2 linked regions of the Homo sapiens genome follow. The protein of the gene in region 2 purifies or fractionates together with the protein of the main gene of each other region. This does not show direct contact. Each region holds a gene or a part of one and is shown on either strand. Other genes may lie near its edges.

Region 1 (4,473 bases), on a different chromosome or scaffold from region 2:
ATTGTTCATATCTAACTCTGCAGTTACAAAAGGACCATGTCTCATGGAATTATCCACGCTCAGATCTTCCGCATGGCTCAAAACCATTTTTGGGATATGGTAATGTCAAGATAACCCCTTATTCTGTCAAGTATTTAAAAAAATTTTTTTTAAATTTAAATTTATTTATTTATTTATTTATTTTTATTTATTTTAGAGACAGGGTCTCACTATGTTGCTCAGGCTGGTCTCAAACTCCTGGCCTCAAGCGATCCTCCCACTTTGGACTCCTAGGATTACAGGTGTGAGCCACCATGCCGGCCTCTGTCAAGTCTTATTACTTTAAATTATTTACCTCTGTTTGTTTATATATACTTACATACTCTGATGGTTTAAAAGAATATGCAGTGAAAATTAAGTCTCCTTCCCATCCTCTGCACCCTGGGCACCCAGGATCCTTTCTTAACAACCACTGTTACCAGTTTATTGTTAACATAGGTTTTAATGCACTAGAAATGTAGTATCAGAGCACCATCAAAATAGTAACAGAGTGTTGTATATCTCCCCTGTAAGAGTCACAGCCCACACCTCTACAACAAACACAGGGTAACAAGAGAAAAGCAAAACAGCTGGGCACAGTGGCTCATGTCTGTAATCCCAGCACTTTGGGAGGCTGAAGTGGGAGGATTGCTTGAGGCCAGTAGTTCGAGGCTGCAAGTCAGCTATAATTGCACTACTCCACTCTAGCCTGGGTGACAGAGCGAGACTCCACCTCTAAAAAATAAAAAATACATAAAAAAGCCAAACAAATTTATTTGATTATAGTTTTATGTGACACGGGAGCTTTCAGAATGAAGACCGACAGATACAAGGAAAACAATCCATTTCTATGCTTAGGTCCAATGGAACATGGACAGCCATGTAGAAATATGATTGGACCAAAAGGGTAAGATCTGTTGCTAATAGAGTGAGTGGGGAAACTCGGCAAGGCCTGTGTTCAGATTTTTCTTGGCCTCCCCATGCAGCATTTCTTCCTCCGGGTATGGGGCAGGACCCCTCTGGAATGAGGGTCTTAATTTCTTTATGGTCAGCTGTTACACAGAAAGGCAGAGGGAAAGGTTAGAGTATATTTTTATTTTTTTGAGATGGGGTCTCACTCTGTCGCCCAGGCTGGAGTGCAGTGGCGCAATCTCGGCTCACTGCAACTTCCGCCTCCCAGATTCAAGTGATTCTCCTGCCTCAGCCTCCCAAGTAGCTGGGATTACAGGTGCCCGCCAGCAGCCTGGCCAACATGGTGAAACCCCATCTCTACCAAAAACACAAAAAAATTAGCCGGGCATGGTGGTGTTCAACAGAAAGCTGAGTTTTGTTTTTTTCCCTGAGGAATTGAAATTTGCTCTCTGTTTTTTAAGATAGAGTTTCGCTCTGCCACCCACGCTGGAGTGCAGTGGCGCAATCTTGGCTCACTGCAACCTCCGCCTCCTGGGTTCAAGCTATTCTCCTGCCTCAGCCTCCTGACTAGCTGGGATTACAGGCACGTGCCACCATGCTCAGCTAATTTTTTTGTATTTTTAGTAGAGACAGGGTTTCACCATGCTGGCCAGGCTGGTCTGGCCAACATGTAACCATGAGCCAAGTTACATATCTTACGTATCGGAAGAACCAAACAGACAGAATGACACACCAAAAGGAAAACCTCAAACCTCCTCTCCAGCAGAATTTGTCTACGCCCCAACCACTGAGCAGAGAGTATTAACTCTCAGTTTCCCTTTGCCAGCTTTATTTCACACCTCATTTTCTGTCTAGTTACACCATGGTGCTAAGAGAGCATGATGTACATTTTCCTTTGCTGCAATCAAGCTGCAATTGTCATTCTTTATTTATGCAATTACTGAGTTAAAGTCTATCTCCCCAGCCAAACCGCAAGAGTGGGGACCTTGTCTGTCCTGTTTAATGAGGTCATCGGATTAATAGAGTTGTCAAATGTATTAATTAATGCCTGATCCTAATTGCCCATGGATTCTGGGATAAAAGTCCATCCTAGTTGGTAGGAGACCTGATCTCTGAGAAGACACTGAGTTGGTCTTCTCTATTTTGTTCCTAAATGGTTATTGGGTAGCTGGTGTACTAGGCAACCACTGAGCTTAGTGGAGCATTTCTGAGACAACCAGGCCTCAAAGAGAATCTGATCAAGGAAGAAGGAAGTAGAAGAGGCAAGTATTTGAATTTCCTTCTTCAGAAGGGAAGAAGTGGGAGCCACACCCCCTCTTGCCTGCTCTTTCCTCTCCAGCCTTCTCCAGGTATCAGGCAGTTCAAAGATTAGGCAGTTCAAAGATCGCTCCAGGATCGCTGAAGTGTATCATACCATCAGCTGACCTTTTACGTTAACTGGGGCAAAGCCTGAACGGATAACCAGAGGCCAACTGCCATAGTTTATTTATTACAGTTTTTCCCAAATGCTGGATGGCCACACGGCCCTCTATGATGCATGCGCTTGCAAGTCAGACGGTCCCAAGCTAGGCGACTTTCCCCCTTGGTCCCTCGCATTGCAAGTGGCCCGCTAGATCCGGGAGGTATGTAGCGTGGGCCTGGGGCCTGCTCGCAGCCCAGGGCACAGTTCAACCCACCTTCCAACTCGGCGAAGCCAAGCACCACGTCCGAGGCTCTCCCCTGCCTGTCTTTGACCTCTAGGGCTGTGATCGTGCAGCCCCAGGAGATGATGTCCACTCTCAAGAGGTCTGACTGCAGCTGGAACTTCTCCACTGTCCCTCCTCCCGAGGGCAGCTCTCCAAACACGGCCCTGGTCACCGAAGCCATAGGGAAAGTTTGGCGTGTGCAGCCACTGCCCGCTCTTCAAACTCCAGCGCTCGCTAAGCTAGAGGCGACCCAAGTTTACAGGAGAAGGGGCGTGACTCGGCTCAGACTCCTCCCTTTCCCTGCCTGGATTTAGGGAGTGACCGTTCCTGCAAAAAATAGCCCCTGGGGCCTTTCTAAATCAATCATTTGCCTGAGGGTAACAAGAGGGGCAAACTTTGCAGCCACACTTGTACTTTTTTTCCTTGGCTCGTCCTGGTTGCATTGCATGTTGGGAATGGTAGTTTTTGGGAGGTGAAATTGCATTTTGGGGCTTGTAGTCTTTCTAAACTCGAATCCTGGGTTGACGGGGTTCTACCCCCATCTCCCCACACCTCAACATGTAATGAGCTGGTCATTAATGTCGGTGGCTATCAGACGAAGAATGGGAAAATACAGATAGCAGACTTACAGTGAGACCGATCTTGGGAAAAAATTAGATTTTAACTCTTTGATACAGGGGGTAAGAAGTACAGCAGTAGTTGGCCGGCTCGGTGGCTCACGCCTGTAATCCCAGCACTTTGGGAGACCGAGGCAGGCGGATCACGAGGTCAGGAGATTGAGACCTTCCTGGCTAACACGGTGAAACCCCGCCTCTACTAAAAATACAAAAAAAAAAAAAAAAAAAAAAAAAAAAAAAAATTAGCTGGGAGTGGTGGTGGGGGCCTGTAGTCCCAGCTACTCGGGAGGCTGAGGCAGGAGAATGGCGTGAACCCGTGAGGCGGAGCTTGCAGTGAGCCGAGATCACGCCACTGCACTCCAGCCTGAGTGACAGAGCGAGACTCCGTCTCAAAACAACAACAACAACAACAACAAAGTACAGTAGTAGCTTAGAAATGAGGTAAATCATCTCAGGCTTCTCTGCACACAGACTTACTGAAGATTCACTCTTTTTGTCCCACGGATGAAGTCCTGGACATGGTTCTGTTAGAGCCACTGCCCAGAAGGCTCTCCTGACGGCCAAAGCTGTGCCAGCCTCGAGGAGCTTGGACCAGACAGGGTCAGGTAGATGGATTAGGCCCTCGGTGTGCGGAGGTGATTAGAGACAGCCTCAGACTTATTTTACTTCAAGGGACTGGAAAGGGACCTCTGGTGTCTTCTGGCTCCTGAAGTCCACAGTTCCTTTAAGAAGGGATTCAGGGAACAAGTATTGATTGAGGTCCTTGTAAATGCCAGGTACTGAACCTTTGTTATCTCCTTTTCTACAAGTAGGATGGAGTCTTCAGGTATGTACAGTTGGAGAGGAAAGACACTAAGGTTATTAAATAATTGTCTTGCTTGATTGTGTCTCAGAATTTGCTGAGGACATTTAAAATGCATATTCCCAGTCCCCACCTCTGGAATTTCTAATTCTGGAAGTCTAGGGTGAAACTCAGGAATCTGCATTTTTCATGTTCCCAAGTTATTCTTCTGCAGATTATCTGGGACCAGATTTAGAGAAATATTGCTCTAAGGCTTGATGAGTAATCTGAATTTTTTTCCCCAAAAAAATAGGCTCTGATGGCAGAAGGATTAAGATAAAGCTATTAAGGGCCTTAATGAGATAACATACAGGCACCTATGTACTTCCTTGCTAAGTCTGGCAACTTTAGAGGAGTACTGAGCCTAGGAAGTGGGAGGATGCTGGGAGCCTAAAGACAA
Region 2 (2,665 bases):
AAGACATATGCACACGTATGTTTATTGCGGCACTATTCACAATAGCAAAGACTTGGAACCAACCCAAATGTCCATCAGTGATAGAGTGGATTAAGAAAATGTGGCACATATACACCATGGAATACTATGCAGCCATAAAAAGGATGAGTTCATGTCCTTTGTAGGGACATGGATGGAGCTGGAAACCATCATTCTGAACAAACTATCGCACGGACTAAAAACCAAACACTGCATGTTCTCACTTATAGGTGGGAATTGAACAATGAAAACACTTGGACACAGAGTGGGGAACACCGCACACCAGGGCCTGTTGTGGGGTGGGGGAAGGGGGAGGGATAGCATTAGGAGATATACCCAATGTAAATGATGAGTTAATGGGTGCAGCATACCAACATGGCACATGTATACATATGTAACAAACCTGCATGTCGTGCACATGGACCCTAGAACTTAAAGTATAATAAAAAAAGAAATTTCAGAATATTGAGTCATCATATGATAAAATCATTATAGTCTCACATACATTTGGAAAATATACTTTATTCAATAATATAAACAATGTAGTAGATATATTTGATTATTTAATAATCATTTTAAGTTTATTGTACAGATGCACATGTCAATAATTAGTGTTTTTCAGATGGGATGATATACATTCTGCTTTTATTTTTATCTCTTTGGTAACAATTATTGACAGAACAATGAAACAAAGATAAATTGTTTTACAGTTGTAATACCCTTGTATGGTAATTCTCAGCCTCTTTTATCTTATATTCTACTAGCACTTACATCTAATAGGTCTCAATAAAGTAGAAATGTAAAAGTATGTATTTTCAGAAAAGGTCATATTTCATAAAGATTCTGTTACTATGTTAGTCATTTATCATAAGTGTTAAGTCTAAGAAAAGTTGTAATAGAAATTGCTAAGACTTTAAAATAAAAACTACTCCTTTAGTAGTTAAAAAATGTTATTATATGGTTGAGTATAAATTTTATTGCCCTAGTGACAGTAAAAAACAAAAACGTTTAGCAAAAAAATATTGCCATTAATAGCTTTATCTAAAATTCTACAACAGACAAAGCAGAATAAACGTTTTGGCATCCAGAGGTCAGGTGATACAGAAATGAAGTTCAGCAGGTGCAAAAGATATATCAAGGGCATGGTAGTTAAAAGAAATGAAAAGAGACAGATGTCAAATGAATATTCCACAGTAAGCAGTGTTATCAGGAAGCTGGAATACAAAAAGACTTGTGCACATGGGAAATAAGGATTAGAAGCAACTTTGCCCAATGTGACAGTGAGTATTAAAAGACATAGGTCCCTGGAAGCCAGGGTCAGAAGGGATGGTAGGCCATGGACATGAGGGACAGTCAGTTACTGAAATTTTAATGTTAATTCGGTGTCTCATCTAGGCTCTGGTAGGTTAGAAGATTTCTGGCCTTACCATGATAGTTGGATTATATGGTACTTGGATGCTCTAAAACATGTTGTGACTCAGTACTCTTTAAAAAAAAAAAAGTTTTAGCATGTTACATATTCCTAATAAGTGAAATTTTATGTCTGAACTAAAATTTACTTCACTTCCTCGTGTAAGAATGCCTTGCTTAAACTCAATATATAAAAATCAGAATTTTAAAAATTAAACAATTAGAAATGAAGTTATTCACTTTACAAATACTGGATTTATTTTTCTAAATTTTTTAGTTATCTTTACTTTTTCACACATTTATGTTACCTGGCTTGCCATGTGGGCCTTTGAAGTTCCATATCCCCTGACAGTAAGGGAGATCTGCTCTGAGTGTTGCCTAAGACATCTACAAACAAACCTGGTGTTTTATTCCAGTTGAAAAAATGATAATTCTGTGAAGCATCTGGTCTTCTTTTTACTAGCAGCTCTAGTGTTTGAGCCTATCGTTTGGAACTGTGGAAAATTATTTCTCTAAGTAGCTCTTTAAAATGGATCCCTGTCTACATAGAGACTTAAGCTATGGCTCTTTCCTCAGTGGCCTTAGCTCTAAATATGAAGTTCTTTCTGGACTGAAACTAGAGAAAAGTAAAGGTCAGACTGTATCTCTTTAGAATGTTGACCGTTTCTTTACCAATACCCTATTTAATATACTGATACTTGTATTGAAGATGCAGTTATACAGAGGGAAATAAAAGAATAACTGGAGGATTAGAAAAAATATTTTTATACATAATATGGAAAACATTCCACACATGCTAAGCACTCTTCATTTCCCTTAGATGTCACCTGTCTCTTTCTTTATCTCTCATTCCTTCTCCAGTGGTAGCATTTGGGTACTCAACCCAAGACTCACAGGTTTCCATCAACTAAGTTTCAGAGAGCTTAAACAAGATATTTTCAGTACACAAATTCTCAGAAGAGTCTACTTTAATCAGAGCAAGATGATTATCCTTTACACCTATAAACACTCCAGGATCAGTCTTGCATTCAAATGAAACACAGTTGGAGTGCATATTATGAAGGACAAAGAAGGCCTGGTCTGGCAGTGGTTTTTCACACTTATGGAGCTGAGGAAACAAGAGAGAAAGCAATCCATATGTGAATGGGAAGTTCAGAGTCAACTTTACCTGCCTGTATTGGAAACTAAAGGGGAATACTTATTTATGACTTGATATTTCTAGCAAGCTTGCTTAGTG

What was found.
Region 1: the proteins of IL33 (region 2) and GALM purify together in Homo sapiens (affinity purification with mass spectrometry; one large-scale study listed by BioGRID and IntAct). This does not show direct contact.

What each region holds. Positions count from the first base shown.
Region 1 is NC_000002.12:38,664,485-38,668,957, reverse strand, and holds the start of GALM (galactose mutarotase), read right to left. Parts: upstream 2,845-4,473; 5' UTR 2,797-2,844; coding exon 2,607-2,796; intron 1-2,606. UniProt on the Homo sapiens protein: Mutarotase that catalyzes the interconversion of beta-D-galactose and alpha-D-galactose during galactose metabolism.
Region 2 is NC_000009.12:6,255,839-6,258,503, reverse strand, and holds the end of IL33 (interleukin-33 isoform a precursor), read right to left. Parts: intron 2,537-2,665; coding exon 2,336-2,536; 3' UTR 521-2,335; downstream 1-520. UniProt on the Homo sapiens protein: Cytokine that binds to and signals through the IL1RL1/ST2 receptor which in turn activates NF-kappa-B and MAPK signaling pathways in target cells. Involved in the maturation of Th2 cells inducing the secretion of T-helper type 2-associated cytokines.